Regions from separate parts of the Homo sapiens genome. Here all the other regions are linked to region 2. The links come from fine-mapping of genetic effects on gene expression. A gene starts in region 2. Each other region holds a variant in brackets. All regions are shown on one strand. Distances are from middle to middle.

Region 1 (2,762 bases), 290 kb before region 2:
CAACACCCAGCACAGAGGAGATACTGTATAAAGACTGGTTTATGGACTAGTCTTTTTTGTTTGTTTGTTTTGTTTTAGAGGCAGAGTTTTTGCTCTTGTTGCCCAGGCTGGAGTGCAATGGCGCGATCTCAGCTCACCGCAACTCCGCCTCCCGGGTTCAAGCGATTCTCCTGCCTCAGCCTCCTGAATAGCTGGGGTTACAGGCACGCGCCACCACGCCCGGCTAATTTTGCATTTTTAGTAGAGACGGCGTTTCTCCATGTTGGCCAGGCTGGCCTCAAACTCCCGACCTCAGGTGATCCCCCTGCCTTGGCCTCCCAAAGTGTAGACTAGTCTTTAAGTACTGCTTTTATAAGGTTTGGTTTTCCATTCAGCCTTTCCTCTGATTTCATCTCCATAAAAAATATCGGTTTGGGCGCAGTGGCTCACGCCTGTAATCCCAGCACTTTGAGAGGCCGAGGCGGGCGGAGCACGAGGTCAGGAGATGGAGACCATCCTGGCTAACACGGTGAAACCCTTTCTCTACTAAAAATACAAAAATTAGCCGGGCGAGGTGGCGGGCGCCTGTAGTCCCAGCTACTCCGGAGGCTGAGGCAGGAGAACGGCTTAAACCCGGGAGGCGGAGCTTGCAGTGAGCCGAGATTGCGCCACTGCTCTCCAGCCTGGGCGACAGAGCGAGACTCCGTCTCAAAAAAAAAAAAAAAAAAAAGAAAGAAAGAAAGAAAGAAAGAAAAATATCAGCAAATAAGAAGCATAACAGTGATTTCCACTGGAACTCAAATTTTTCTAGGAGAGTAGTTCTTAACTAGGACCATTTTCTTTAAAATACTAATTCCCAGGTCCTATTAATCAAAATATCTTTGAGAGAGGTGGAGATTGGGATATAAGCAACAGAATGTTTTAAGCCCCAGATGATTTAGCTAGCATTGAGGACTACAGCTCTAAGCTGTGTTTCCCAAACTTTAACGTGCCTAGAATCACCTGGGGTGACGATTAAAAAGTCACATTTCCTAGTCTCATTGTTTAGCGCTAGATTAGATAAATATTTCGGTTCTCCTCTTCCTCCACACCTTTGCCATGTAAGTATGCGGCACCTTTCCACTGTAAATGGGGCATACTCCCCCACTCCCTGATTTCTTTTGAGCCACATGACCTGGCCTGCTTTGGCTCATAGGATGTTACCAGATGCGGCAGAGGCACAGGCTTGAAAAGCACTTGTGTGATCAAGTCTGCACGCTGGCACCTCTGCTATTACTGAAACTGCCTTTGCAAAAAATTATAACAGTGGGAAAATTATGAC[A/T]GTGAAAGAGATCTGATCTAACCAATCTTCATCTTGCCTTTAAACTCCAAACTGCCCTTGGTCATTCCTGGGCTTGGGCCAAGCTAACTGTAAGAGAAATTTAATTTATAGTTTAAATGATAACAGCTCTACCCCAAAATTAAACCACCTTTGTAAAACTAATGAAAGATCACCAGTTTAGGAGAATGAGAGGAGCCGGAATTCTGCTAAGATGTAGACGCAAATGATTACCAGGCATTACCCCAGATGTCACAAGATTCGCAACTTACTCCCAATTACTCCTGCAGATAACATCACTATTGTAGAACCCAAGATTGGCCTTTTGAAATGTCTTTTCAAGTTTTTGCATTTCTGATGACTGACTAGCCCCATTCAGGCCCAAGACTTGACTCAACTAGTTCTGTGGCCCCCATCCAGAAGTGGACTCAGTTCACAAGGACCGTTCTCCACGCCCCTGTGATTGCATTCCCTAACATCAGCAACACCCATTTCTTTGCTTGCCAAACTATCCCTGAAAAACCCTGGCCTCTTAATTTCCAGAGAGATTGATTTGAGTAATAAACTCCAGTCCCCCGTTCAGCCAGCTGTGTGAATTAAACTCTTTCTCTATTGCAATTATCCTGTCTTGATAAATCAGCTCTATCCAGGAAGCAGGCAAGATGAACCCATTGGGCAGTTATATTATCATAAGAACAACATGCCTGGTTTAGCAAGCAGGCCTCAGGAGAAGAATGGGACACTGGAGCAGAGCCAAGTTAGTCCAGCCAAACCCAACCTTAATCAGCCACATCTCCTCCACCCCCAACCCCAGTGGGTGATAAAGCCCAGCCAAATCATCAGAGCTGCCAGCCAGTTAGCTTAGATCAGATGGTCCCTGTCAACCTGCAGATATGTAAGCAAAATGCTGCCTGAAATTTATTGTTCATTTGTAATGTAAGTAATAGATAATCAATATAATCTACACAAGAAACTCTGATTTGGTGACTACTTTCGACTGGTTTCCTTTGTTTACGATTGATAGAAAGCTAACCCAAACTCCCTTAAAAATAAAAGAAAATGTTCCGAATTACAAAATGAATAAAAAAGGGAGTCAACACAGCTCCAGGAATGACAGATTCCAAGTATTTAGATGGTACTGTAGGTAATTTGACTCTCCAACAGAGATGCAGCTGGAGGCTGTCATCCTAAGTGAATTAACACAAACAGAAAACCAAATACCACATGTTCTCACTTATAAGTGGGAGCTAAACATTGGGTGCTTGTGGACACAAAGATGAAAACAATAGAAACTGAGGACTACTATGGGGGGAGGAAAGAAGGAAAACAAGGGTTGAAAAGCTAACTATTTGAGTACTATGCTCAGTATCTGGGTGATGGGATAAATCATAACCCAAACTTCAGCATCATGCAATATACTCAGGTAACAAGTCAGCACAGATACCCCCTGAATCTAAAATAAAGG
Region 2 (2,762 bases):
GACCAACACGCTTAAAGGAAAACCAGAGCAGGATCCAGAAAGCAGAAAAAGGGAGAACACAGGAAATTAGCCTTGCTCCACAGAAGAGATTTAACCTACACAATCTTTGTCACAAACACAAAAGAAAGAACATTTTTTGTAAGAAAACTGACAGAGTGGGAGTTTTGGAGTGCCAAAAAAGGGGCTCAAATAAATCAGAAATAAGTACATTATACCAAGCGACTACCTCTATTGTCAACACTGGACATATTTTACAACACAGGATGCACTGCGTCAATAGTAGATAATGAATCATGTATACACATCAGATACACACGAATAACTTGCTTTATACAGAATTCTAGCACTTCTTATATTTCTTGACTGTCTTAGGAATAACCTCTGATTGGGCAGAAAACCCCTAAGTCCTAAAAGTTTCCAACACATTCCATTCTCATCCTTTTGTTGGGAACATTCTAAGCAAAGGGTAAACACTAATTGGGAAATAATGCTCCTCCTCAAGAAACTCCAAAACCTAAGTTGAAATGGAATCGTCTCAAATAGCAGAGGCAAGCATTTAAAAAGACAAACACTTATTTGAACCCCCACGGTTGGTATCGTTTCTGCAGCTCATGAACTTTCTTTTCCAGCCTACGGATGCGCCTCTGACAAACTCAGAACTCATGCACTCAGAGGGAAAAGTAACTGTACTCTTCCCCTCCTAATTAAGTTCAGGCGTAAGGGTCGAGAGAGAGGCAAAGGAACTTCAAATGTTTCCAAGGAAATCTCAAGGGCCCCACCCGGCTTCCGTCCCCACTCGCCAGACAAGGCAGCCGGGGAATAGGGAGGACAAGCTAATTCTAAAGCCAGATTCTCTGCCCTTCCTTGCTCAGCCGGCAGCCAGGCCCTAGCCCCCGACTGCGGAGCCCTGGTTCTCACTTTCACCTCAGCTCTGGCCCTGGAGCTCCCCATACCGGCCTCCTTCCCATGCTGAGCCCCAGCCGGCCAAGCTCCAGGCCCCCTCCCTTACCTGCGCCTCCTGCCCCGGCCGCGCCGGCTGCCCCCCGCCCCAGCCTCCGCTTCAACGGCTCAGCCCCCGGAAGTCGGCCCCCGAGAGCGGCGGTGGGCTCCTCAGGCCGCGGACGGTTGCGGCAGGAAGCGAAGCTGCTTACATGGTTGATGCGGCTTCTCGCTTCCCCCCCCCAAGACTCCGCCCTCTGTTTTCCTGTCCCCCAGTCCGAAATCTTTCCCGGGGGCCGGCTCCTCCCAGCCCGGCCGACGCTCGGATCAGATGCTCAGGCAGAAGGAGTCCAGCCCAGATCGAGTCGTCCTGATCTTTTGGCCGAGATTAGGCCGCTTCAGCCTTCCTGGAAGAAGCCAGGGGGACTGCGCGCGTGAGCGTCACGCATGCGGGGTCAACGGATGGGTGCTTGGTGCTCTGGGCACTGCAGGGGTGCTGGCTGGACTGCGGTTACCGTATGTGTTCGATACTGTGGGCACTCATAATATGTTATTGCTTTGTTGTAGACAGTTCACTCGTGTAGCACTGAACCGGAGTTAGCGATGACTCTGTTTCCAGACTTGCATGACTCCACCAATAACCAGCCATATGATCTTAAGCAAATTGCTCATTTATTTAGGCCTTAGACCTCTGGTGTGTAAAGTCGGATTAATAAAAGGACTCACTTCTTAATACTTTTTTGAGATTAAGTAAATGCACTTAAAGCGAATGGCACAGTTCCCTGACCCAGAGTAAGTGATGTCGGCTTTATAGTTAATTTTTTCATTTAGGTGTTGTGTTGCAAATGCTGATGCAAATAAAGTTACCAAGCCCAAGCCCTATCTTGTTCAGCTTGGCTAGAGTTATTCGTCATTTCTGTCCTGCTGAGAGCGCAGTGCAGTTAACTGCAGAAAACATGCTCGCCGCAGTTGTGGGGCTTGGTAGGGGAGGATGGAAAGCAGACGAAACCTAAAGGGAAATGCAGTTTTAAATTCTGTGAGTCCTTTTCCTCAAGAGTTTTGTCAAATCCCAGCCCAGTTTTCCTGGAGTTGGAAAGCACCATCGAAACCTGCAGGTTGAGTCCAGTGCAAATCCCAGTCACCATCCTCAGCTGGGCCCTTCAGCAATCTTTCTGGGAGTCTGTAGTCAGCTTCTCCCATTCCTTATTACTGCTGCGTCAGACCACCACCACGACCCCCACATTACCTTGACCATCATTCTCATCAGAGAATCATATTTTATACCCACGTGAAAAATCCCAAGGTATCTGGGCGTGACCCTTAACAAGCTAATTCCCCACACACCACAACATTTACCTACATCCACATCTGCCCTGGTCTGCCTTTCTCCCTCATCTCTCTGAGGAAGGGGCCTCTTCTTCCCCAGCTCAATCCTTTTGGCCCCCAATTCACCCTCTCCTGTCTGGGAGCTTGCACCGTATCTGCAACCTCCCCTTTTCCAATGACTCTGCCTCCTCAGCCCATAAAGATGCTCAAGTCTCTGCCTTCCTTTAAAAAAATTTTTTTTAAAAATTTAAGATAAGCAAAAAAGGCCCTCGTAATTATCACCCTATGTTAATATTTCATAAACCTACAATAAAGTATGAAATAGGTACAGAGATCATATGAAAAGAATAAATTGCCCAGCCACGACGACTGCAGTGTATGTAGAAACTCCATCTATGGTTTAAAAAAAAAAAAAAAAAGTGCACTCCGCAAATATTTTTGAGTCCCTAATTTAACCTGCAGTGTGTTAGTTATAGAAGCACTACACTAAGGATAGA
Region 3 (2,762 bases), 99 kb before region 2:
AGTGTAAGCTACGGTCTGGTTATATTCCACTTGTTACAGTTCACGATGTACAGAAAAACCTTTAAGCCGAACTTAAAATATGTAAGAAAGCAGCTTCATGCTAAACTTTATTTCACAAGAGGAAGTGTGAATCAAGGTACAATGGTATCAAGAAGAAAGCTGAGCAGAAGTCCTTACCTCAATGCAGTACAGCACATTAACAGAATAAACCAGGCTGCACCAGCAGGGATTGAGGTAAGGATGATGGCTGGGCTAAGAATTATGGGATGGTGAGGAATGACATAGGAGTTCATGGCTATTAGATCTTGTACAAATTGAAAAGTATGATTACCTCCTGAATCAAATTTCCCTTCTTTCTTTACTAGCAAGACAAGGGTATTGCAAGGTGAGAAGGTAAAAATAAGGACACCCCATTATAAAAGGGGGGCCTATTATAGTTTCAATTCCTAATTCTGCATCTCCAGATAGGAGGTACTGAGCTACAGATAAGAAAGGATTATAAGAGAAGACTATGAACTATACCAACAAACTGGATGACCTATAAGAAATGGATAAATTTCTAGAAACACCAAACCTGCCAAGACTGAATCATGAAGAAATAGAAGATATAAATAGACCAATAACTAGTAAGGAAATTGAGTTGGTAATTAAAAACCTCCCAACAAAGAAAAGCCCAGGACTAGAAGACTTCACTGAAGAATTCTACCAAATATTGAAGAATTAACACTGGCCAGACGTGGTGGCTCATGCCTGTAATCCCAGAACTTTGGGAGACTGAGGTGAGAGGTTCACTTGAGCCTAGGAGTCTGAGACCAGCCTGGGCAACATAGCAAGACCTACCTTGTCTCTGCAAAAAAAAAAAAAAAAAAAAAAAAAAAAAAAAAAAATATATATATATATATATATATATATATATATTTATCTATTATATTATATATATATAAATTAGCTGTGCATGGTGGCACATGCTTATAGTCCCAGCTACTCAGGAGGCTGAAGCAGAATTGCTTGAGCCCAGGAGTTAGAGGCTGCAGTGAGCTATGATTGTGCCGCTGCACTCCAGCCTGGGTGACAGTGAGACCCTGTCTCCAAAAAAAAAAAAAAAAGAATTTACATCAATCCCCCAAAAACTGAAGAGAAAGGAATACTTCCAAGGTCATTCTTTGAGGGGCAGCATTAGTGTGATATCAAAGCTAGGCAAAAATACTACAAGAAAAAATAAATAATTACCCAATATGTCTGATGAACGTAGTCAAAAAAATACTAGCAAAATAAATTCAACAGCACACTCAAAAGATCATTCACCATGATCAAGTGGGATTTATCCCTGGGATGCAAGGATGGTTCAACATATGAAAATCAATGTAGTACACCACATTTACAGAATAAAGGACAAAACCCACATGACCATCTCCACTGATGCAGGAAAAGCATTTGGCAAAATTCAATATCCTTTCACACACAAAAAAAGAAAAGAAAAGAAAAAAAACACTCAAAAGTGGAAAGAGAAGGAAATTACC[T/C]GCACATAATAAAGGTTGTTTAGGAAAAGTCCACAGCTAACGGCATACTCAGTGAAAAACTGGAAGCTTTTCCTCTAAGATTAAGAACAAGGCAAAAATGTCTGTTCTGGACACTTCTATTCAACAGAGTATTGGAACTCCAGTCCAAAGCAATTAGACAAGAAAAAGCAATAAAAGGCATCCAAATTGGGAAGAAAGAAGTAAAAATTTCTGTTTGTAGATGGCATGATCTTATATGCAGAAAATCCTAAAGATTCCACCAAAAAAAAAAAACAGGTTAGAACAAATTTAAAAATTCAGTAAAGTTACCAGATACAAAATCAACACACATACAAAAAATCAGTTACATTTCTATACACAAATAGTGAAAGCATCTGAAAAAATTAAGAAAATGATTCCCGTTGCAATGGCATCAAAAAGAAAACAATTCTTAGAAATTGACTAAGGAAGTAAAAACTTATATAATGAAAACTATAAAACATTACTGAAAGAAATCAAAGAAGAGATAAATAAATAGAAACATCTCACATTCATGGATTAGACTTAATATTATTAAGATGTTAATATCACTCAAAACAGTCTACAGATTCAATTCAATCCTTATCAAAATTCCAATAGCATTTGTTGCAGAAATAGAAGAATTCATCCTAAAATTGATATGGAATCTCAAAGGGCCCTAAGAGTCAAACAATTTTGAAAAAGAAGAATAAAACAGTGTGGTACTGGAATAAAGACAGATATACAAATCAATAGAACAGAATAAAGAGCCCAGAAATAAACTTGTGTACACATGGCCAACTGACCTCCAAGAAGAGCTCCAACAGCACTAAATGGGAAAAGGACAGTCTGGTCAACAAATGATGCTGGGAAAACTGGATATTTACATGCAAAACAATGCAGTTGGACCTGTTTCTTACACCACATACAAAAATTAACTCAAAATGGACTAAAGACTTAAACCAAAGACCCAAAGCAATAAAACTTCTGGAAGAAAACATAGAAAAAAATCGTCAGGACATTGAATGTGGATATGACACATTCCACATTCTTGGATATGACACCAAAATCACAGGCAACCAAAAAAAATGGACAAATGGGACTGCATCAAACATAAAAACTTTTGTTCATTGAAGGACACAATAGTGAAAAGGCAACCTACAGAATGAGGGAAAATGTTTTGCAAATCATATTTGATAAGATGTTAGCATCCATAATATATAAAGAATTCCTACAATTCAACAA

Alleles and levels. Alleles are on the strand shown, and positions count from the first base shown. SD is a standard deviation of normalised expression in the study named. Not every link is listed here.
In carriers of allele C in region 3, the expression in tibial nerve of the gene that starts at base 1,170 in region 2 tends to be lower than with T alone (small effect, 0.25 SD a copy in GTEx).

What was found. PIP is the estimated chance that this variant, and not a neighbour inherited with it, causes the effect. A credible set is the group of variants that fine-mapping cannot tell apart.
Region 1: its variant is the best candidate, but not a certain one, in a credible set for the expression of PIKFYVE in whole blood (INTERVAL, PIP 0.60).
Region 3: its variant is the best candidate, but not a certain one, in a credible set for the expression of PIKFYVE in tibial nerve (GTEx, PIP 0.57).

The regions. Positions count from the first base shown.
Region 1 is chr2:208,556,401-208,559,162 of GRCh38, reverse strand. All of the region lies in intron 1 of LOC101927960 (a long non-coding RNA gene), which reads right to left. Among named protein-coding and RNA genes, the nearest start is that of PTH2R, 150 kb to the right of the region's middle. The variant A/T (reference allele first, on the strand shown) is at 1,301.
Region 2 is chr2:208,264,663-208,267,424 of GRCh38, reverse strand. It overlaps PIKFYVE (phosphoinositide kinase, FYVE-type zinc finger containing), which reads right to left and starts at 1,170. Exons shown (of 42, transcript NM_015040.4): 1 at 1,010-1,170. RefSeq lists a silencer at 884-1,153 and an enhancer at 1,284-1,333.
Region 3 is chr2:208,364,086-208,366,847 of GRCh38, reverse strand. It overlaps a transcript of PTH2R not described here. Among named protein-coding and RNA genes, the nearest start is that of PTH2R, 41 kb to the left of the region's middle. The variant T/C (reference allele first, on the strand shown) is at 1,521.